Homo sapiens: one gene and its partners. The protein of the gene in region 1 interacts with the protein of each later gene in a pairwise test. Each region holds a gene or a part of one and is shown in the gene's direction. Other genes may lie near its edges.

What was found.
Region 2: the proteins of CCR2 (region 1) and EMC10 interact in a two-hybrid assay, tested with the Homo sapiens proteins (one large-scale study listed by BioGRID and IntAct).
Region 3: the proteins of CCR2 (region 1) and TECPR2 interact in a two-hybrid assay, tested with the Homo sapiens proteins (one large-scale study listed by BioGRID and IntAct).
Region 4: the proteins of CCR2 (region 1) and TMEM63A interact in a two-hybrid assay, tested with the Homo sapiens proteins (one large-scale study listed by BioGRID and IntAct).
Region 5: the proteins of CCR2 (region 1) and PLLP interact in a two-hybrid assay, tested with the Homo sapiens proteins (one large-scale study listed by BioGRID and IntAct).
Region 6: the proteins of CCR2 (region 1) and SLC41A3 interact in a two-hybrid assay, tested with the Homo sapiens proteins (one large-scale study listed by BioGRID and IntAct).
Region 7: the proteins of CCR2 (region 1) and SLC2A1 interact in a two-hybrid assay, tested with the Homo sapiens proteins (one large-scale study listed by BioGRID and IntAct).

Annotation. Positions count from the first base shown.
Region 1 is NC_000003.12:46,357,111-46,359,275, forward strand, and holds part of CCR2 (C-C chemokine receptor type 2), read left to right. Parts: intron 1-366; 5' UTR 367-417; coding exon 418-1,500; 3' UTR 1,501-2,165. UniProt on the Homo sapiens protein: Key functional receptor for CCL2 but can also bind CCL7, and CCL12. Also transduces signaling mediated by CCL13.
Region 2 is NC_000019.10:50,486,507-50,488,938, forward strand, and holds part of EMC10 (ER membrane protein complex subunit 10 isoform 2 precursor), read left to right. Parts: 3' UTR 1-2,432. UniProt on the Homo sapiens protein: Part of the endoplasmic reticulum membrane protein complex (EMC) that enables the energy-independent insertion into endoplasmic reticulum membranes of newly synthesized membrane proteins.
Region 3 is NC_000014.9:102,442,941-102,446,440, forward strand, and holds part of TECPR2 (tectonin beta-propeller repeat-containing protein 2), read left to right. Parts: intron 1-706; coding exon 707-887; intron 888-2,865; coding exon 2,866-3,007; intron 3,008-3,500. UniProt on the Homo sapiens protein: Probably plays a role as positive regulator of autophagy.
Region 4 is NC_000001.11:225,872,381-225,875,880, reverse strand, and holds part of TMEM63A (mechanosensitive cation channel TMEM63A), read left to right. Parts: intron 1-1,513; coding exon 1,514-1,593; intron 1,594-3,500. UniProt on the Homo sapiens protein: Mechanosensitive cation channel with low conductance and high activation threshold. In contrast to TMEM63B, does not show phospholipid scramblase activity. Acts as a regulator of lysosomal morphology by mediating lysosomal mechanosensitivity.
Region 5 is NC_000016.10:57,274,673-57,278,172, reverse strand, and holds part of PLLP (plasmolipin), read left to right. Parts: intron 1-3,500. UniProt on the Homo sapiens protein: Main component of the myelin sheath that plays an important role in myelin membrane biogenesis and myelination. Plays an essential function in apical endocytosis. Regulates epithelial development through the regulation of apical endocytosis.
Region 6 is NC_000003.12:126,070,625-126,074,124, reverse strand, and holds part of SLC41A3 (solute carrier family 41 member 3), read left to right. Parts: intron 1-3,500. UniProt on the Homo sapiens protein: Na(+)/Mg(2+) ion exchanger that acts as a predominant Mg(2+) efflux system at the mitochondrial inner membrane.
Region 7 is NC_000001.11:42,945,369-42,948,868, reverse strand, and holds part of SLC2A1 (solute carrier family 2, facilitated glucose transporter member 1), read left to right. Parts: intron 1-3,500. UniProt on the Homo sapiens protein: Facilitative glucose transporter, which is responsible for constitutive or basal glucose uptake. Has a very broad substrate specificity; can transport a wide range of aldoses including both pentoses and hexoses.

The DNA of each region.
Region 1 (2,165 bases):
AAGAGCTTTCTCAGAAGCCCCCAGCAGACTCCCTTTTCATATTATGGTCCAGCAATGAGTCACAGACCTATGCACCACCTGCAAAGGAGCCAGAGAAAACAAACGCCCAGCGCTTTTAGCCTGAAAATGAGAATCTGGTTTGCTGGGGAAGATAAAGGGTGTCGGAAAATGGCTGTTGGGTAAATCATTGATGTCTGCCACTAGGAATGAAAGGCAAATCAGGAACTGGCACACATGCTTTCAGGGAGATGGCTGCAAGGGAGAGGGCAAAGACTGGGAAGTTGCTTATGTGGTGCCAGACTATTTGGAAGATCATGGATTGCGGTGTTTGTGTTGTGTGGTCATCATTTTGTTCTTTGTTTACAGAACAGAGAAAGTGGATTGAACAAGGACGCATTTCCCCAGTACATCCACAACATGCTGTCCACATCTCGTTCTCGGTTTATCAGAAATACCAACGAGAGCGGTGAAGAAGTCACCACCTTTTTTGATTATGATTACGGTGCTCCCTGTCATAAATTTGACGTGAAGCAAATTGGGGCCCAACTCCTGCCTCCGCTCTACTCGCTGGTGTTCATCTTTGGTTTTGTGGGCAACATGCTGGTCGTCCTCATCTTAATAAACTGCAAAAAGCTGAAGTGCTTGACTGACATTTACCTGCTCAACCTGGCCATCTCTGATCTGCTTTTTCTTATTACTCTCCCATTGTGGGCTCACTCTGCTGCAAATGAGTGGGTCTTTGGGAATGCAATGTGCAAATTATTCACAGGGCTGTATCACATCGGTTATTTTGGCGGAATCTTCTTCATCATCCTCCTGACAATCGATAGATACCTGGCTATTGTCCATGCTGTGTTTGCTTTAAAAGCCAGGACGGTCACCTTTGGGGTGGTGACAAGTGTGATCACCTGGTTGGTGGCTGTGTTTGCTTCTGTCCCAGGAATCATCTTTACTAAATGCCAGAAAGAAGATTCTGTTTATGTCTGTGGCCCTTATTTTCCACGAGGATGGAATAATTTCCACACAATAATGAGGAACATTTTGGGGCTGGTCCTGCCGCTGCTCATCATGGTCATCTGCTACTCGGGAATCCTGAAAACCCTGCTTCGGTGTCGAAACGAGAAGAAGAGGCATAGGGCAGTGAGAGTCATCTTCACCATCATGATTGTTTACTTTCTCTTCTGGACTCCCTATAATATTGTCATTCTCCTGAACACCTTCCAGGAATTCTTCGGCCTGAGTAACTGTGAAAGCACCAGTCAACTGGACCAAGCCACGCAGGTGACAGAGACTCTTGGGATGACTCACTGCTGCATCAATCCCATCATCTATGCCTTCGTTGGGGAGAAGTTCAGAAGGTATCTCTCGGTGTTCTTCCGAAAGCACATCACCAAGCGCTTCTGCAAACAATGTCCAGTTTTCTACAGGGAGACAGTGGATGGAGTGACTTCAACAAACACGCCTTCCACTGGGGAGCAGGAAGTCTCGGCTGGTTTATAAAACGAGGAGCAGTTTGATTGTTGTTTATAAAGGGAGATAACAATCTGTATATAACAACAAACTTCAAGGGTTTGTTGAACAATAGAAACCTGTAAAGCAGGTGCCCAGGAACCTCAGGGCTGTGTGTACTAATACAGACTATGTCACCCAATGCATATCCAACATGTGCTCAGGGAATAATCCAGAAAAACTGTGGGTAGAGACTTTGACTCTCCAGAAAGCTCATCTCAGCTCCTGAAAAATGCCTCATTACCTTGTGCTAATCCTCTTTTTCTAGTCTTCATAATTTCTTCACTCAATCTCTGATTCTGTCAATGTCTTGAAATCAAGGGCCAGCTGGAGGTGAAGAAGAGAATGTGACAGGCACAGATGAATGGGAGTGAGGGATAGTGGGGTCAGGGCTGAGAGGAGAAGGAGGGAGACATGAGCATGGCTGAGCCTGGACAAAGACAAAGGTGAGCAAAGGGCTCACGCATTCAGCCAGGAGATGATACTGGTCCTTAGCCCCATCTGCCACGTGTATTTAACCTTGAAGGGTTCACCAGGTCAGGGAGAGTTTGGGAACTGCAATAACCTGGGAGTTTTGGTGGAGTCCGATGATTCTCTTTTGCATAAGTGCATGACATATTTTTGCTTTATTACAGTTTATCTATGGCACCCATGCA
Region 2 (2,432 bases), on another chromosome or scaffold:
TCAGAGAGACTCCCTGGTAAGGATTAGGGGCTAATTACTGGTGCCTCTTCAGCTGTCAGTCCATCCTCCTTTATTTGTACCCACCTTCCAGTCAGCAAGGCACAACAATGTTGTTACAAAGGAAACAAACTCAATTTGGCCCATTTCCTGGAAATGCAATCTCCCAAACAGGTTTGTGTGAACCAAATTCCATTTTCCTTTGTTTCCCATGTGCAGTCCCAGTTGCATTTCCATGGGAGCCAATCCACCCACCCATAGAATGACTTGAAAATGTGTGAAGTTCAGAAGTTTCATACCAAGAAGTTTGCTGAGCATGATGTTTGTATATTGATTAGGAGTAAAAATGTTCATTTTTACAAAATATTACAACTTCTCCCTCTCCCCTCCTTCCACCCAGTATCCCCTGTTCCTCCCCCAGGCATTCTGGTCACTGTTCCTTTTTGTTGAGATCATTCTCGGTGTCTCATATAGCTGGGTTGCAGCTCCGTTCTTTGCCAGGAGGTGGTAATAGAGGATTCCACGCACTCAGAATGCCTCAGGCCGGCGCCTGTGGCTTCTCTCAATGGAGGGAAGTGTCCTGCAGGGGGCGCTGTTGGTCCTTCAGGCAAGGTCGGGTTCCCTCGAAGTCTCTGTCTTAGCAGTTGCTGGTCTTCAGAAACATTGGGCACCAATTTTCTCATTTCTGAAATGGAATTCAGGTGAGGTCCCCTCAGTGCTGAGGTGCTTCATGTTGTCAGAGGAAGAGTTGGGAAGGGAGCGGAATGGAGCAGAAAGGCGTCATCCGCTGCTCACTGAGCTCAGATAGGAGGCCAGGGATCGGCAGATTCAGGAGCCCACTCCTGGCCAACCCCAGGGGCCCCACCCAGTCCTGTCCCTGCTCCTTACGTGCTGTGTATCTTTAGGCAAGTTGCTTCCTGTCTCTGAGCGTCGTCTTTGTTTCCGCCTTCCTGGGCCTACGGCAGGCCTGATTCCTCCAGGCAGTGTCCAGAGTTCCGGACAGATGGAAAAGGAAGAGAGAATGGGTGTCACAAAGGTCTGTCCACTCCTGGGCCTCAGGCTTGGGGGCCCTGCTCAGGGCTAGCCTGTTTGGGCCTCGGTATGGACTCCTGCCTCCTGGTCAGGACCTGGAAACCTGGGAGCAGGCAAGGCAGGAACAGGAGAGGGAGGCAAAGGCCCACCAGGCAGGGATGCAGGGGCCACCTGGAGACGGAGGAGACGGGGCTCCCGGGAGGGAGGCCAGTGGGAGTGAGAGCTTGAAGGAGAGAGAGCCAGGAGAGGAGACAGGTCCAGAGAGGAGGGAAAGGAAAGGACAGGGCAGAGACAGAGAAACCAGAGAGAGGGAAGGAAGAGAGACCCAAGGGGGAGAGACAGGGAAGGAAGAGGGAGGTGAGAAGAGGAAGAGGCAGATTCAGAGGAGAGAGGAGAGAAAAGAGGTGGAAATCAAACAGGAGAAAGAGGGAGGAGAGGAGGGAGGAGAGAGTGTAGGAAAAAAGCAGGAGGAAAGAGCCGGGCACGGTGGCTCACGCCTGTAATCCCAGCACTTTGGGAGGCCAAGGCAGGCAGATCACGAGGTGAGGAGATCGAGACCGTCCTGGCTAACACGGTGAAACCCTGTCTCTACTAAAAATACAAAAAAAAAATTAGCAGGGCATGGTGGCAGGCGCCTGTAGTCCCAGCTACTCGGGAGGCTGAGGCAGGAGAATGGCGTGAACCCTGGAGGCGGAGCTTGCAGTGAGCCGAGATTGCGCCACTGCACTCCAGCCTGGGCGACAGAGCGAGACTCCGTCTCAAAAAAAAAAAAAAAAAAAAAAAGAAAAGATGGCCAGAGCAGGAGGGGAGAGAGGAAGAGGGAGAAAGAAGGAAACAGTGTAGGGGGTCAGAAGTGGAAAGAGAAGAAAAAACAGAAGAGGAAAGAAAGACGAGGGGGTGAAAAAAGGGACAGGAAGGAAGAGAGGGAGAGGGTGGGTGCCATGGCTGGTGAGCTCGGAGAAGAGGGAAGCAGAGAAACGGGTGAAGGAGGGAGCGTCCTAGGGAGAAGTGGGTGGGGGAGAGGGTGTTGGGGGAGAAGAGGGTGGGGGAGAGGGGGCCCCGGGAGAGGGAGGGATGGAGGAGCGGGGAGCTCCAGCCAGAGAAGAGGAAAGAGAAAGGAGAGAGCTAGGAACTGGGAAGGAAAAGAGCTAGGAGGAGACCATGAGACAGAAAGAGAAGAGGGTGAAGAGAGAGGATAGTGGCTGGGAGGAGAGAGGAGGAGGGAGGAGCACAGAGGGAGAGGAGAGGAAACAGCCAGAGAATCTGCTAGAAGGGAGAGAGGAGAGAGAAGAGCCGGACAGGGAGAGCAGAAGTGAGAAAAAGGAGGGTGGCCACAGAGAGGACAGCGAGAAAAAGAGAACAGGAAGAGGGGAAAAGAGAAGAAATGGGAGAGGGAAGAAGGG
Region 3 (3,500 bases), on another chromosome or scaffold:
GGAGCCAGGGACCCTGAGCTTTGGCCTGCCACTGCCTTGCAGTTTGACAGACCTCAGATTTCATCTGGGAAATTCGGGGTTTCATTTTATTAGTGGAACCTCGCACCCAGTCAGAGCAGAGAGGAGCCGCCGTGCTGGAGCTCTCTGCAGGAACGACTGCAGGCCTCAGGTCCCTGCCAACTCCAGCAGCGCTGCAGCCCTCTGCCTGGAAGAGCTGCTCTGCCCTGCAGCCTTTGGGCCTCCATCTGGCCACTCTCCTGCTCTTGGCTTTTGTGTTCTTCTCTTAGAACTTCTTAAGCTACATTGGGACACCAGATAATTCTGAATTGTTCAGTTTTCAAAGAGTGTCTAAAACTGTTTTCAGATAGATGTTACATTTAGGCAGAATTTAACCACTTTATGTTGATTAAACTTGACAACAAAAAAGCGGCCGGACAGGGCAGCTCCTGCCTGTAATCCCAGCACTTTGGGAGGCTGAGGTGGGAGGATCTCTTGAGCCCAGGAGTTTGAGATCAGCCTGGGCAACGTAGAAAGGCCCCGTCTATATTTTTAATTAATTAATTAATTAAAGTTTTTTTTTAAAGCACTCATCATAAAAGAATATAGCAAAATACCAAAAAAGGAAAAATAAGCCAATAACCAAGTCAAAATGAGGTGTGGAGTTCTGACTGTGTGTCTTTGGGGCTTCTTCCCATCTTCCTGGCAGGTCTGAGCGTGGATCGCCCTTGTGCCAGAGCCGTAAAGGTGGACTGTCCCTACCCGCTGTCCCAGATCACAGCCCGGAACAATGTGGTGTGGGCGCTGACAGAGCAGAGGGCCCTCCTGTACCGGGAGGGCGTGAGCAGCTTCTGTCCGGAAGGCGAGCAGTGGAAGTGTGACATTGTCAGGTACTGGCGGGCCAGAGACTCCTTTCACATCGTGCTTGTCCTACCCTTCGTTCTTGTCCACTTGACACCACAAGGCACCATGAGGCCGTTCCTGGGAGGCAGCACCTGCAGCCTCCATGGCTATAGGCTAAGCTTGAATCTCTGCCTAATTCTGACCGGCAAACTGGACGTTGAGTCAGAGCTCGCTTTTTAAAAATGCTGCCGCCCTCTGCGCAGCCCTGAGCATCACAGCGTCATGAGTCTGTCATGACGGTCTCTATTCAGAATTGCCCACCGTCAGGTAGTTCTGGTTTAGTGTCTGTGACGGCTTAGGTCCAAATATTTTTCTTTATTTTCATGCTAATCGAAGTTGATCTCTGAACTGTAGCTTTTTTTTTTTTTTTTGATACAGGTTCTCACTCTGTCACCCAGGCTGGGGTGCAGTGCCACGATCACGGCTCACTGCAGCCTTGACCTCCGGGCTCAGGTGATCCTCCTGCCTCAGCCTCCTGAGTAGCTGGGACTACAGATGCATGCCACCATGCCCAGCTAATTTTTGTATTTTTTGTAGAGATGAGTTTTGGGTTTTCATCATGTTGCCCAGACTCATCTCGAACTCTTGGGCTCAAGCAATTCTCCTGCCTTGGCCTCCCAAAGTGCTGGGATTACAGACATGAGCCACTATGCCTGGCCCGATCTCTGAACTGTAATTTATTAAGCTATTTTTTTTTTTACCATTCAAGATGTTAGTTATAGAATTGCCATCAGATCATTTTACTAGTATGGAAGTATTAATAGTCCTTTGAAAAACTAGATTAGGATATTCTTGGTTTGAATTTAGCAAGCCAATAAACTTTCAGTGAATACCTATTAAGAGCCAGAATGGTCCAGGTGTGGTGGCTCACGCCTGTAATCCCAACACTTTGGAAGGCCAAGGCAGGCGGATCACGAGGTCAAGAGTTCGAGACCAGACTGACCAACATAGTGAAATCCCGTCTCTATTAAAAATACAAAAATTAACCGGGCATCTCAGGAGGCTGAGGCAGGAGAATCACTTGAACCTGGGAGGCGGAAGTTGCAGAGAGCTGAGATCGCACCATTGCACTCCAGCCTGGGTGACAGAGCAAGACTCCATCTCAAAAAACAGACAGACAAAAAAAAGCAACAACAACAAAAAGCCAGAATGGTGCTAGGGGCTGGGTGCGCCAAGAGGGCTGAGACTGGCCCTGCTCTCATCAGTTCCAAGTCTCATGGGGGCCCCGTGCATGGATGGACACCCATTAGCACAGATGGCCCTAAACAGGAGTGTGGAGCATGCAGCACTGAGGGAACCATGGACTCCATGCAGAGATCAGGAAGGCAGCATGCAGAGTGGACCAACAGCTAAGCCTTGAAGCTGACGAGGACTTCCCCATATGGAAGGAGGGGGAGGGCGTCTCCAGCAAAGAGGGCAGTGTCTGCCTAGGTCCAGCTGCACAGAATAGCCTGGCACATCGGGGGAGTTTACAGTCATTCCCTTGGTGAGGGAGGGAGTAGAGAGATGGAGGCGCTCAGGGGCCTTGGATTGGCGGGGGAAGGAGTAGAGAGATGGAGGCACTCAGGGGCCTTGGATTGGCGGGGGAAGGAGTAGAGAGATGGAGGCACTCAGGGGCCTTGGATTGGTAGGGGAAGGAGTAGAGAGATGGAGGCGCTCAGGGGCCTTGGATTCCTTTTGTGCCTACTCGCTTTTTTCTTAGGTTATTTTCTCTCTTAAGAGTGTTCCCAGCCATTCTGGGTCATCAGTGTGTCTTTCAAAAGCTGCCACCCACTTGAACCATATCTCTTGCACAGTAATTTAACTCAGACCCAAACTTCCTTCCCTGGCACCTGCTGATCCGCTCCAGGGCCACGTCTCTTCTCCCAGCCACGCCTGCCGGGAGACCCTGGATGTCCGCAGTCCAGACACACTGGGCACTCTGCCTATGGGTGCTGACCCCCCTGTTCTCCTCCTTATTTTCAGCGAAAGGCAAGCTTTAGAACCCGTCTGCATAACGCTCGGGGATCAGCAGACTCTCTGGGCCCTGGACATCCATGGGAACCTGTGGTTCAGAACTGGCATTATTTCCAAGAAGCCCCAAGGAGATGACGACCATTGGTGGCAAGTAGGTGTTCAGCTCTGCGCCACGTGCCGAGGTCTCCCGACCTTTTCTGCTTCCCCTTTTCTTACTTCTCTCTTTTCCTTAACGATACTAGATTAAATTTAAAATACTCACTTTTTTATTATTTGTTTGTTTGTTTTGAAACAAGATCTCCTTCCGTCATCCAGGCGGAAGGGCAGTGGTGCAGTCACGGCTCACTGCAGTCTTGACTTCCTGGGCTCAGGTGATTCTCCCACCTCAGCCTCCCAGGTAGCTGGGACTACAGGCGTGTGCCACCATGCCTGGCTAGTTTTTTGTATTTGTTTGTAGAGACAGGGTTTTGGCATGTTGTGCAGGCTGGTCTCAAACTCCTGAGCTCAAGAGATCCACCCAGACTGGGCAGAGTGGCTCACACCTGTAATCCCAGCAATTTGAGAGGCCAAGGCAGGCAGATCACTCGAGTCCAGGAGTTCAAAGCCAGCCTGGGCAACATGGTGAAACCCTGTCTCTACCAAAA
Region 4 (3,500 bases), on another chromosome or scaffold:
TGTTGCCTAGGCTGGTCTCAAACTCCTGAGCTCAAGCGATTCACCAGCCTTGGCCTCCCAAAGTGCTGGGATTACAGGAGTGAGCCATGGTGCCCGGCCAGGGGTGGATTTTTATTGCAGTAAGTTTTGGGGGTGGGGGAGGGGGGACACATAAGAGCCAGAGGGCCCTGGAGAGCATGGGTTTGTGGGAAGTGTCTGCACTGCACAGGCCAGGGCGGCAGCCGCTGTGGACAGAGAGGGCAGGCACCTGCTGAGCAGGTTTCGTGGTTTTCCTACAACATGACTCACCTGCCTTTGAAAATATGTCACCAACTTCCTGATTCACCTGAAGAAAATTCCACGAGAACTCAGTGCCTCTGGGGTTCAGGTCTTCTGGATTTCCTTTAGGAAAACAAAGCCTACCTTCAAAACCCCCGTTTCTGATCAGAGCAGGCAGGGATGTGCTTACTAAGATGTATTTCTCTACCTCCCTGAACCTCAAAGAGAGGGACCCTGTCTAGGGAGGGAAGAGAGGCAGGAACATGGCATGGAGCCTGCCAAGGTGGACTGTGGGGAGTGAGGACAGTCTAGAGTGTACAGATGTCTAGAGCTAAGCGGCTTAGTCCAGCCCTGAGGTTGCCATTGGACACAAGCTTGCTGAGGTGTCCCAGCTTACGGAGGCCAAGCCAGCCCGAGCACAGGTTCTCGTGGTGCCTTGCTGCCTGCATGCATGCTCTCTGCTGGGGGATTGCAGGGCCTGCGGGGCCTGCCTTCAGGGGAATCAAACTCAGAGGAAAAAACTGACCGTTTCTGGCTCAGCCTGAGGAGGCTCTGCTACCTTGGTTCTGTAATTTAAAATGAAATTTTCTGGCCAGCATGGTGGCTCACGCCTGTAATCCCAGCACTTTGGGAGGCTGAGGCAGGTGGATCACCTGAGGTCAGGAGTTCGAGACCAGCCTGACCAATATGGTGAAACCCTGTCTCTACTAAAATACAAAAATTAGCTGGGTGTGGTGGCGGGCACCTGTAGTCCCAGCTACTCTGGAGGCTGAGGCACAAGAATTGCTTGAACCCGGGAGGGGAAGTTGCAGTGAGCCGAAAGAAAAAAATTTTCTGTAAAGTGAAGAAGGATGCTGGTTCCTGGGGCTGCTCTGGGGCCAGACCTTACCCTCCTGCTCGGGGCCACTGAAGGCAGAGCAGGGCCCGAGACTGGGCCTTGTGGTGTTACCGCTGCCTTGAGAGCAAGAGACAGGGCTGACGTGCAGAACTAGGCAGGCTCCAGGCAAGCTTGGCGTCAGCGCTGGCAGCCTTGGTGGCGTGGGCACAGGTGACAGGAGCCTGGTGAAGGGGGTGAGCAAAGCATCCGGGCTACTGAGCTGCATGGCCTTGGGCACTTCAGTGCCCTCTCTGGGCCTGGGTGTTTTCCTTCTAGCCCTGCTGAGTGCGGGCAGGTGGGCTTTACCCCTGAGACCGCTGTGTCTTCTAATGAGAAGCCATCCAATATGCTTTTACTTGGTTTCTTTTCTGTTTTTAGTTCTTAATCTTGGTGTTTTCTATTATAAGAAGAAGATTCTGGGACTATGGCCGCATTGCCCTGGTGTCAGAAGCAGACAGGTAAAGACATATCGCCTAGGCTGTGAGCATGCGTGTGCGTACGTGTGAGTGTGTATATGTGCGTGAGTGTGTATATGTGCGTGTGTGCATATATGTGTGTATAGTGTGTGTGTGTGTGTCCCTGGAATGGGCTAGGGGCTTATGAAGCCCTCCATGTGGGCAGGACCCACACATGACACTGCTATGAGATTGTGTTCATTAAGTGTATCTACCTGGCCTGTACCAATAGCTGTTCTCTTTGCTCTTCACCACAGACCCATGAGGTCAGCCTCGCTACCCTCATTGTGCTCACAAAACAAAAAACAAAAACAAAAACCCAGGCTCAGATGCTCAGCTCCCTCAGGGCTTCTGTTGGGCCAAGGCTATGAACCTTGTTGGCTTCAGACTGGTTGCTTTAGATACTGAGGGCTTTCGTCATCCTCTGAAGAGGATGCCCATTTTCTTTCTCACCTTGAGTATTTTTAAGTGATCATCTTTGAAATTAATTAGCTTGGGGCCAGGGCTGAGTGAGGATCAAGGGCAGCAGAGCCATCAGGGAACTGCCCCACCCTCCTGCCAGGTCAGCGCCGGGTTTGGATGAGTCTGTTACAAAGCACAGGCTCCCTCGGCCAGGCTTCAGGTCCTTCCAGTTCTGCGTGGGGCTCCAGGATTCTCTGTTCATGTCGCCTGAAGGGTGACAGTGAATTCTGGATCTGCACAACCTGACGTTCCAGCTCCAGCTGGCTGTTTGCACCCAGGATCTTGTGTCAGATGTGGTAATAGGAAGTGAGTGATGAAAACTCAGGGACTGGCCCCAGCTGCCACCCAGAGCCCCAGAGGGGCTCTGGCAGACCCTCCACTCTCGGGCGCCTCCTGACATGTGGCCTGTGCGGCAGGGTCCTTTGAACTGGGAAGAGGAGGTGTACCTGAAAATGCACCATCTTTCCCCGTGATCCCTGCTCTGGGATTTGCTAAAGCCTGAGGTGATGATGACCTTGGACTGTTGGAGAGAAACTTTTGGGACATCTGATGCCTTTACGGCACATTCAGCTGGAAGTGGGGCCATGTACTCTGGTTGAAAAGACCACCTGGGGATCAGAGGGCCCTGCTGTATCCCTGGCTGTGCGACCTTGGTCAAGGCCCCAAACTTAATAGGGTCGGTCTCCTTCTGTCCTCTCTTCCCCATGAGGTCACGGTGAAGGTCAAAAGGGACAGTGTCTCTGCAAAGGCTTTTAAAGTTAAGTTTCGTCATGTGTTTTGTCTTTAGTAGGGGGGCAGTAGAACCAGGAATAGGAGACTAGAGAAAAGGAGTCACAGCCAGGCATGTTGGCTCACACCTATAATCCCAGCACTTTGGGAGGCCGAGGCGGGGGTGGATCATGAGGTCAGGAGTTCAAGACCAGCCTGGCCAAGATGATGAAACCCCATCTCTATTAAAAATACAAAAATTAGCCAGGCATGGTGGCGGGTGCCTGTAAGCCCAGCTACTCGGGAGACTGAGGCAGAGAATTGCTTGAACCCGGGTGGCAGAGCTTGCAGTGAGCCAAGATCACCCCACTGCACTTCCAGCTTGGGTGACAGAGCCAGACTCTGTCTCAAAAAAAAAAAAAAAAAAAAAAGAAGAAAAGCAGTCACATATACGTATTGCAAACACCTCAGATTTATAGCGCATGGGGTGTTTTTATGGGGGTACTCGCAAGAAAGGATCTGATTAAAATGCCACAATATAAAGTGCCATCATTTGTCCACTCTAAAACATATGTTTTGACATTTTCTCATCTCTGAAATTGGAAGGCATCTTGTTATTGATGGGTGGTCATAGTTTATTTGGCAGCATTTTTTCTTTAGTGTTTCATAAAATAATTGTGCAAATTACAACCAGTGGTATCTTAGATTTGATAAAATGTAGTATTTATTCCAAGTTTTAT
Region 5 (3,500 bases), on another chromosome or scaffold:
AGACGGGGCTTCACCATGTTGGCCAGGCTGGTCTTGAACTCTTGACCTCAGGTGATCTGCCTGTCTCTGCCTCCCAAAGTGCTGGGATTACAGGCATGAGCCACCGTGCCTGGCCACTCTTCATGTTTTGAGACTTGTCTTCCTTCCTTGTAAACTGTTGTGGAGTAACCCGTAGTGTCCCGGCAGCCTCTGCTCATTTAGCTGTTTCTCTACTGATGGAATTGTTTTATTCTTTGAAAAAAAAATTACAGAGACATAATACAAAGCACTCAAATAGTAGAAAGGGTAATCAAGAAAATGTAATCTCTCTCATCCCTGACTGACCACGCCCCACAGCTGCCCTCACCCCAGGCAACCACATGCCTTGTGTCTCATTCCAGGGTGAGTGGATGCATATTTCTACATAAAACCCACATCCTCACTTAACCACAGATAGGTGCTGTCTGGGCATGTGCCAAGCCATGCTTTTCCCCAGGGCAATACACCTAGGGATATTCTGTATCAGTGCACAGCAAGCTGTGTCCATCTTTTTCATACCTTTATTACCTAATTTCTTTTTCTTTATTTTTATTTTGTTTGTTTGAGGCAGAGTCTTGCTCTGTCACCCAGGCTGGAGTGCAGTGACGTGACCTCAGCTCACTGCAACCTCTGCCTCCCAAGTTCAAGTGATTCTCCTGCCTCAGCCTCTTAAGTAGCTGGGATTACAGGCACGCACCACCATGGCCTGACTAATTTTTGTATTTTTAGTGGAGACAGGGTTTCACCATGTTGATCAGGCTGGTCTCAAACTCCTGACCTCAGGTGATCCGCCCGCCTCGGCCTCCCAGAGTGCTGGGATTACAGGCGTGAGCCACCGCACCCGGCCCCTAATTTCTTTAATAGGTAATGTATTTACAATGCTCAAGAATAAAATAGACAGGGAAGGAGTACAGTGAAAAATCTCTGTTCCCTTTTGGTTAAAGTTGACTCCTTCATGCCCACTCTCAGTTTTCTATATCCCATTTTAAGACTTTCTTTAAGGAGACCTATGCAAATGTGGCTCTAGATTCCTCTCTCTCCCAGTTTATATAGTCTCCCCAAGATATATAGTCTAGCCACATCCTTCTGCACTTTTTCTTTTACACTTAAAAAATGAATCTTGGGGGTCCTTTTGTCTCAGTGTGTGGAGTGCAATTGCTTCTTTCTTTATGGCTTCTATAGTATTCCACCATGCAGCTGTGGTGTGACTGTGTGGTCAGTCCCTTTGTTGACAGACACTTCGGGTTTTCTATTCCTTTGCTGTTGCGCACCCTGCTGCAAGAAATGCCACCAAGTGCATCTGTACGATATGTTTCCAGGAGTGGGACTACTGGGTGGGAGGATACATGCATTTGGGATTGTGATGTAGATTGCCAAATGCCTTCCGGAGAGGTCACACCCTTCCTGCCTGCAACAGCATGCCTCCTGGAAGGTTCCTGTTCCCACAGCCTCCCAACATGGTGATTTAACACACTTCTGGATGTGCCCCAATCGAATAGACCAAAATGATAGGTCAATGTAGTGTTATTTTCATTTCTCTCTCTCTCTTTTTTTTTTTTTTTTGAGACAGAGTCTCACTCTGTCACCCAGCCTGGAGTGTAGTGGCATGATCTTGACTCACTGCAACCTCTGCCTCCTGGGTTCAAGCAATTCTCTGGCCTTAGACTCCCGAGTAGCTGGGATTACAGGCGCCCACCACCAAGCCCGGCTAATTTTTGTATTTTTAGTAGAGACGGGGTTTGGCCATGTTGGCCAAGCTGGTCTTGAACTCCTGACCTCAGGTGATCTGCCTGCTTCAGCCTTCCAAAGTGCTGGGATTATAGGCATGAGCCATGATGCCCAGCTAATTTTTATATTTTTAGTAGAGACAGGGTTTCACCATGTCGGCCAGACTGGCCTCGAACTCCTGACCTCAGATGATCTGCCTGCCTCAGCCTTCCAAAGTGCTGGGATTACAGGCATGAGCCACCAAACCTAGCCTATTTTCAGTCTCTTATCAGTGAGGTTGACCTTTTAAAAAATGTGTTTGGGTTGTTTGTTGGTTTTTGAGACAGGATCTCACTCTGTCACCCAGGCTGGAGTGGAGTGGCACGATCAGGAATCACTGCAACCTCCGCCTCCAGGGCTCAAGCCATCCTACCACCTCAGCCTGCCGAGTAGCTGGGACTACAGGTGCTCCTCACCATGCCCAGCTAATTTTTGGTAGAGACATGGTCTCACTATATTGCCCAGGCTGGTCTCGAACTCCTGGGCTCAAGCAGTACTCCTGCCTCGGCCTCCCAAAGTGCTGAAATTATAAATGCAAGGCGCGGCGCCAGGATCTAAAAGATGTTTAAGAGCCGTTTGTATTTCCTTGTCTGTTTGTATTCTTTGCTCATTCTACTGAGTGTGGTTGGTCTTTGCCTTAATAACTGCTAGGAGTTCTGGATTATTTGCAAATATTTCTTTCCTAATTTGTTTGTTTTGCTGGGTTTTTTTCCCCCTCTCATGGTGTTTTTTTTTTTTTTTTTTTTGCCTTGCAAAATTTTGTTGTAGTGTTTTTTTTTTTTTTGCTGAATTTCTTTATTTCATTCCTCTTCCTTTTTTCTTTCTGGGTTCTGGAAATTGAATCATAGTTCAGTCTTTTTCACTCCAGTTGTATCTGTCTGGAATGTATTAACATTGTTACATATTTGTTGTATTTAATTACCTTGTTAGCTTCTATTGTGACAGATAATACAGGTTTCCCACTTCCTAGTGATTTAAGTTTCCTTTTTAAAATTAGCTTATATATGTGATATATACAAGTTCATCAATGGGGACTAGTTTAGATAAATTATGATACATCTGTACAATGGTGCATGATGCAGTGAGTAAAAAGATATCCCCCCACCCCTCAAAGAAGACAATGCAACAGCTCTGTGTATAAGGATGGACAATCTCCAGGCTACCTATTTAAGTGAAAAAAGCAAGGTGCAAAATTGTAGCATGCTATCATTTGTGTGGAAGAAGTACACAGATACAAGACACACTTATCTGAAATGCATGTGTGTGTGTGTGTGTGTGTGTGTGTGTGTGTGTGAAGTCCCTGGAGACACACATAAGAAACCACTCTTGGCCGGGCGTGGTGGCTCACGCCTGAAACCCAGCACTTTGGGAGGCCGAGGCGGGCGGATCACGAGGTCAGGAGATTGAGACCATCCTGGCTAACACGGTGAAACCCCGTCTCTACTAAAAATACAAAAAATTAGCCGGGCATGGTGGCGGGCGCCTGTAGTCCCAGCTACTCGGGAGGCTGAGGCAGGAGAATGGTGTGAACCCGGGAGGCGGAGCTTGCAGTGAGACAAGATCGCATCACTGCACTCCAGCCTGGGTGACAGAGCAAGACTCCATCTCAAAAAAATAAACAATAAACTACTCTTGATCCAGGCACAGTGGCTCACACCTGTAATCCCAGCATTTTGGGAGGCCGAGGCAGGCAGATCGCCTGAGGTCAGGAGCTC
Region 6 (3,500 bases), about 80 Mb from region 1:
TAGTTGTTGCCAAATGCTTTTTCTGTGTCTGTTGAGCTATGTTTTCTCCCCATTATTCTATTAATTTGGTGTATTACATTGATTTTCATATATTGAACCAACTTTGCATTCCTGAAATAAATCCCACTTGGTTATATTGTAAAAGTCTTTGTATGTACTAGTGGCTTGAGTTTATTAGTATTCTGCTGAGGATTTTGTGTCTGTATTCATAACACACATTGGTCTGTAGCTTTCTTGGGTTGTCTTTACACTGGTCTCATACAAGCGGTTGGGAAGTGTTCCCTTCTCCAATTTGTTGTTGAGAGTTTATGAAGGATTTGTGTTATTTTTTTTTAAATGCTTGGTAGACTTCTCTAGTGAAGCCATCTGGTGTTAAGCTTTTCTTTGTGGGAAGTTTTTTGATTACTAATTCAATCTCTTTATCTGTAGATCTATTAATATTTTTTATTTCTTCACGAGTCAGTATTACTAGTTTGTGTTTCTAGGAATTTGTACATTTCATCTAGGTTTTCTAATTTTTTTAGCTTTATTTATTTTTTAACGTTTAGGTTCAGGGGTACATGTGCAGGTTTGTTATAAATTAGGTATCATGGGGGTTTGGTGTACAGATGATTTTGTCACCCAGGTAATAAACATAGTACCTAATAAGTAGTTTTTTGGATTTTGTTTGTTTGTTTTTGTTTTTTTTCTGAGACAGGGTCTTGTTCTGCCACCCAGGCTGGAGTGCAGTGGTGCAATCTCGGCTCACTGCAACCTCCGCCTCCCACGCTCAAGCGCCACCTGCCTCAGCCTCCTGAGTAGCTGGGACTACAGGTACACTCCACCATGACTGGCTAATTTTTGTATTTTTTGTAGAGGGTTTCACCATCTTGCCTAAGCTGGTCTTCAACTCCTGAGCTCAAGCAATCTGCTTGCCTCGGCCTCCCAAAGTGCTGGGATTACAGGCATGAGCCACTGCATCTGGCCAGATAGGTAGTTTTTTTGATCCTCTTTCTCCTCTCACCCTCTGTTCTCAAGTAGGCCCTGGTGTCTGTTGTTCCCTTCTTTATATGCATGTGTACCCAATGTTTGGCTCTCACTTATAAGTGAAACATGGTATTGGGTTTCTGTTTCTGCATTAGGTTGTTTAGGATTATGGCCTCCAGTTCCATCCATGTTGCTGCAGATGACATGATCTTGTTTTTTCATGGCTGCATAGTGTTCCATGGGCATATGTACTACATATTCTTTATTCAGTCTTCTGTTGACAGGCATTAGGCTGATTTTGTGTCTTTGCTATTGTGAATAGTGCTGCGATGAACATACCTGTGCGTGTGTCTTTATGGTAGAATGATGTATATTTCTTTGGGTATACACCCAATAATGGGATTGCTGGGTTGAATGGTACTTCTGTTTTAAGTTCTTTGAGAAATCACCTCCACTGCTTTCCACAATGGCTGAACTAATTTACATTCCCACAAGCAGTGTATAAGCATTCCCTTTTGTCTACAACCTCACCAGCATCTGTTATTTTTTGACTTTTTAATAATAGCCATTCTGACTGGTGGCTTTTCCAATTTGTTGGCTTACAGTTAATCATATATTCTCTTATAGTTATGTTTAGTTTTGGTTGTAATGTTTCCTCTTTCATTCCTAATTTAACTATTTGAGTCTTCTGTCTTTTTTTCTTCATCAGTCTACATAAAGGATTGTCAGTTTTGTCGATCTCTTCAAGGACCCAACTTTTGGTTTTGCTGGCCTTTTTTTTTTTTTATTTTTTTTTACAATTCTCTTTCATTTATTACCAGTCTAATCTATATTAATTCCTGCCTTCTACTTTTTTGGGTTTAGTTTGCTCCTCTTTATCTTAAGGTGGAAAATTGATTTATTAATTTGTTCATTTCTTTTTAAAGAAATTGATAGTTATAGCTATAAACTTCCCTCTAAGCACTACATTAACACATGCCATGATTTTTTGGCATGTTGTATTTTCATTTTCATTCATCTCAAAGAAATTTCTAATTTATCTTGTGATTTTTGTCTTTGACCCATTACTTATTTAAGAGTATGGGCTGGGGCATGGTGGCTCATGCCTGTAATCCTAGCACTTTGGGAGGCCGAGGTGAGCAGATCACTTGAGCTCAGGAGTTTGAGACCAGCCTGAGCAACACAGTGATATCCCATCTCTACAAAACTTTAAAAAATAATTTAGCTGGGCATGGTGGCACACACCTGTAGTCCCAGCTACTTGGGGGGCTGAGAAGGGAGGATTACATGAGCCCCAGAGGTCTAAGCTGCAGTGAGCTGTGATCATGCCATTGCACTCCAGCCTGGGTGCCAGAATAAGACCCTATCTCAAAAAAAAAAAAAAAAGTTGTTTAATTTCCGCATATTTATAAATTTCCTAAATGTCCTTCTGTTATTGATTTCTAATTTTATTTTGTTGTGGTTGGAAAACATATTTTGTATGATTTCAGTCTTAAATTATTGAAGTTATTTTTCCTAAGATAGATCAAGCCTGCAAAATGTTCCATGTGCACTTGATAAGATTGAGTATTCTGCTATTGTTGCGCGGAGTGTTTTGTATAGATGTGTTTGATCTAATTGGTTTATAATGTTGTTGAAGTCCTCTTTCTTTTGTTGAAATTCTGTCAAATTGTATTATCAATTGTTGGAAGTGAGGTATGTCCAACTATTATTATTGAATTGTCTTTTTCTTCCTTCAGTTCTGCCACTTTTATGTATTTGGGGGCTTTGTTGTTAGGCATATGTACGTTTGTAATTGTTATAGCTTCTTGATAGATTGACCCTTTTATCATTATCAAATATCCTTCTTTGTCTGTAGTAAGAATTCTTGTTTTTATGTCTGTTTTGCCTGATATTATTAATAGTATTAAAGCCACTCCAGTTATCTTTTGGTTATTGTTTGCATGGTATATTTATTTAAATCCTTTTACTTCCAACCTATCCATTTATACTTAATGTAATAATTGATAAGATGGGATTTATGTCTGCCATTTTGCTATTTGTTTTCTGTCTGTCTAATGTCTTTTTTCCCTGTTTCCCCATTACTGCATTGTTTTGTACTAAGTAGATCTTTCCTAGTGTATCACTTTTATTCACTTGTTATTTCTTTTATATTTTTTTTTCTTAGCAGTTGCCCTGAGGATTACAATCAGCACCTTGGTTTATAATAATCGTGTTTGGATCAATAACAACTTAATTCCAACTTGATTTATGTGGTTGTCTTTAAATTGGATAAGAGTAAAAAGAGTTACTAACAAAAATGTGTTTATACTTAAAAAAAAAAATCTGTCTAGGTGGTTACCTTTGCCGATGCTCTTCCTTCCTCTGTGTGGATTCTAGCTAGTGTCTAGGATCCTAATTCGGCCTTAAAGACTCCCTTTCGTGTTTCCTTTAGGGCAGGTGTGCTGGGGACGAATGCTCTGTGTCTGTTTATCTGAAAATCTCTTAATTTCTCCTTTACTTTGAAAAGATAATTTTGCTAGTTAAGAATTCTT
Region 7 (3,500 bases), on another chromosome or scaffold:
ATGGTCTCGATCTCCTGACCTCGTGATCTGCCCGCCTTGCCTCCCAAAGTGCTGGGATTACAGGGGTGAGCCACCGTGCCCGGCTCCAACTTTTCTATTTTTAGTAGAGACAGGGTTTTGCTGTGTTGGCCAAGCTGGTCTGGAACTCCTGGCCTTAACCAATCCGCCCGCCTCGGCCTACCAGAGTGCTGGGATTATAGGTGTAAGCCACCGCGCCCAGCCTTGAGGTTCTTTCTTTTAATGCCCAGAAGTTCATTTAAATGAGTAAGAAACACAACAAAACAAATTAAAAGGGAGCTGTCATGGATTCAGGTAAACCCCTCCCCCACTCCTTTGAGCCGTGGACTAAGCAGTTGGAAAGCCCTGCGTCCCCTGCTTCCCTGCACCTGGGGAACCCATGTGGGATGCTGTGGGAAGAGGACAAGATGGAGCAACATCTGGAGTCTGCCAGCCCTGGGACCCTCCTCTTGCCAGGAATACCCTGCCTCTGAGTAGCAGTAGCCACGTGCCCTTCCTGTGCCAATATAGATTGAGAACCTGCTGCAGGCCAACCCTGGGGCTGGAGCGCAATGCTGACACACTGACATGGGTCAAAAGGCCACAGTGTTTGGCAAGTTATACAATGTGGCCAGGGCCATCTGGCATCCGAGCGTTGGGGGAGAGGTCCTGAATCTTAACACCTCATCCATGGCTTCCTGGGAGAGGGAGGGCTCTTGTGGGTCGTGAGACCCCCAGCGGTGGGATAGGGAGGGTGAGGGGTGGGGACATGAGAAATGCTTCTCTGTGCTGGACCCTGAGCCCAGTTGCTGGCCAAGCTGGGAGGCCATGACTCTCCTAGGAGAGTCAGGATTTGAACTCAGTCTGCCTGACTTCAGAGGTCCTTCCTTGACAGCCCTGTGGGCTTGGAGTGGAGGGTTTTGTGGGGTGCTGTATTTACCTCTCAGAGCTCTGATGTTCCAGCACTCGTCAGGGGTTTGATAAATGGCTAAGGATGAACACTGGTCTGGCACAACAGATACTCACAGAGCCAGCTTTGCCCAAAAGCCAAATTGAAAAGTGGCAGGTTTCTTTGTTTGGCAATTAGCATGTGCTGTTCCCTACTCTCGTCACTCTGGCTGCAGACACGGTATGACCCAGGTTCCATTCCTTTTTTTTATCTCACTCTGTTGCCGAGGCTGGAGTGAAGTGGCATGATCTTGGCTCACTGCAACTTCTGCCTCCCAGGCTCAGGTGATACAGATGTGTGCCACCATATCCAGCTGTTTTTTTTTTTTTTTTTTTTTTTTTGTGTGTGTGTGTGTGTAATTTTAGTAGAGACCTGGTTTCACCATATTGCCCAGGCAGGTCTTGAACTCCTGAGCTCAAATGATCCGCCCACCTTGGCCTCCCAAAGTTCTGGGATCACCGCGTCCTGCCCCTGGTTCTATTCTTAAGGAGTTCCCAAACTGAGTGGCAGATGGGTAATAAGCTAGAGACTGCAGAGGACATAGCAAGAGCAAAGGCCTGGAAGAGAATGGAATGTTCTAGAAAGTAGTCTCATCCCCAGGGAGTGCTGATGGGCTGCTGGGGATCCCAGACTCTGGGCTGTACATTGCTCCCCACCAGTAAAAAAGGCTCCCACAAGAAAATCACAAGCTCTATGGGGCTAGTACCCTTCTCTAAGTCATCACCAACTGTTCATCAGCTTGACACCAGAATAAATAAATACACGTTGAGTGAATGGACTTCATTGCCATGTTCCAGTTCTAGCCACTGGCTGGTGGGGGCAGATGGTGCTGAGGCTGCCCGATCGAGGGTAGCTTGCTATTCTTCACCGATCCAGCAAACACTTGTGGAGGGAATTCTGCCAGGCTTCATGATGGATACTGATAGAAAACGTAACAGCAACCCTTTAAGGAAGGAACTTTCATCCCCGTTTTCTAGGTGAGGAAACCAAGGCCCAGAGCAGGGCTGCCTTGTATCCAACTCCAAGGTGAAAGGAGGCAGCTTGCTGCATTTAAACGTGGGTCTGCTTCCAAGCCCAGCAATGATCAAGCCGGCTATAGTGGGCGCAGCAGAGTGGCAGCATGAATCTGAGATTGGTCGCAGTGTCTTGTGCCTACTGAGGAGCAGGGGCCATGTCCCTCCCCCTACACCTAGCACTGAGCCACACTGAGCACGCTGTTTCTTAATCTGACTGGTCCCCATTTCTTCTCCTTGCACATACTGTTCTGTCCACCTGGAATGTAGCCTTGCCACTGCTTTCCCACTTGGCAGACTCTCTGTGTGTCCTTCACAGCCCAGCTCCAATGTCACCTCCTGGGAACTCATCTTTTTTTGTACCCAGGCAAAACTGGAAATCTTTCCCTCCAGGGTTCTCACAGTGCCTCATACCAGCCCCCTGTTGAAGCCCAGACCACACTAGCCTCTCATCTTCATCTGCCTCCCCACTGCCCCCACCCCACTGTACTGGAAACTCCTTCCTTGGTGTCAGGACTGGGTCCAGTTTCATCCGGGGCCCCAGCTCTACTTAGCATGAGACCTAGAGCATGGGTCACTGGTATTTTAGTCAGTCCTAGTGCAGCAGCTGCCTGGGTGGATGTGGATATGACCCAGGGAGTGGGTAGGCAGGTTTTCTAAAGTCGAGTTTGACCTCGACCTGCTGATGACAAGGTCCAGCGGAGGGGTATGTCCTTGGCCTCCAGCAGCCCCCATTGACAGAGGCTACAGTCGAGCAGCTGCTCAGTGGGGCCCCAGGGATGACTTCAGAGGCTCCAGACCCCTGGAACATCAGATGCAGACCTCAGTAAAACAGGGCCTGTGATAATAGCACTTACCTCACATAGCCAGTGTCATTCACTCATGCTCTACCAACATAATTTTTGCCAGATCCATGGATCATTTGTATTATTTTCCACTTAATGTTTTTATTTAAATTGCTTTGTTCTAAGTAATATGAAATCACAGGGCTTGTAAAAATTATTTTGAATAGGTGATTCCATTCACACCATTCAGAATTCAAAAAAGTGCCAAAGGCTATAAAATGAAATCTCCCTTTCACCCTGTCCCCAGTCACCCAGGCCCCCCCGGGGTTAGAATGTTACCTTTCTTGTACATTCTTGTTTTTTGTTTTTTGTTTTTTTTTTTTTTTGAGACAGAGTCTGCTCTGTCGCCCAGGCTGGAGTGCAGTGGCGCCATCTCGGCTCACTTCATCTCCCAGATAAAGTGATTCTTGTCCCTCAGCCTCCCAAGTAGTTGGGACTACAGGCACGCACCACCATGCCCAGCTAATTTTTGTATTTTTAGTAGAGACAGGGTTTTGCCATGTTGGCCAGGCTGGTCTCGAACTCCTGGCCTCAAGCTGAGATTATAGATGTGAGCCACCGTGCCTAGCCTCTTGTGCATTCTTTTAAATAGATGTGTATATTCTCCCCCTACCCCCAGCCAATTTTTTTTTTTAACCCAAAAGGTAGCATACAATATACACACTGCTCTGTTTTTGGTTTCGCTTTTGTTTTTTG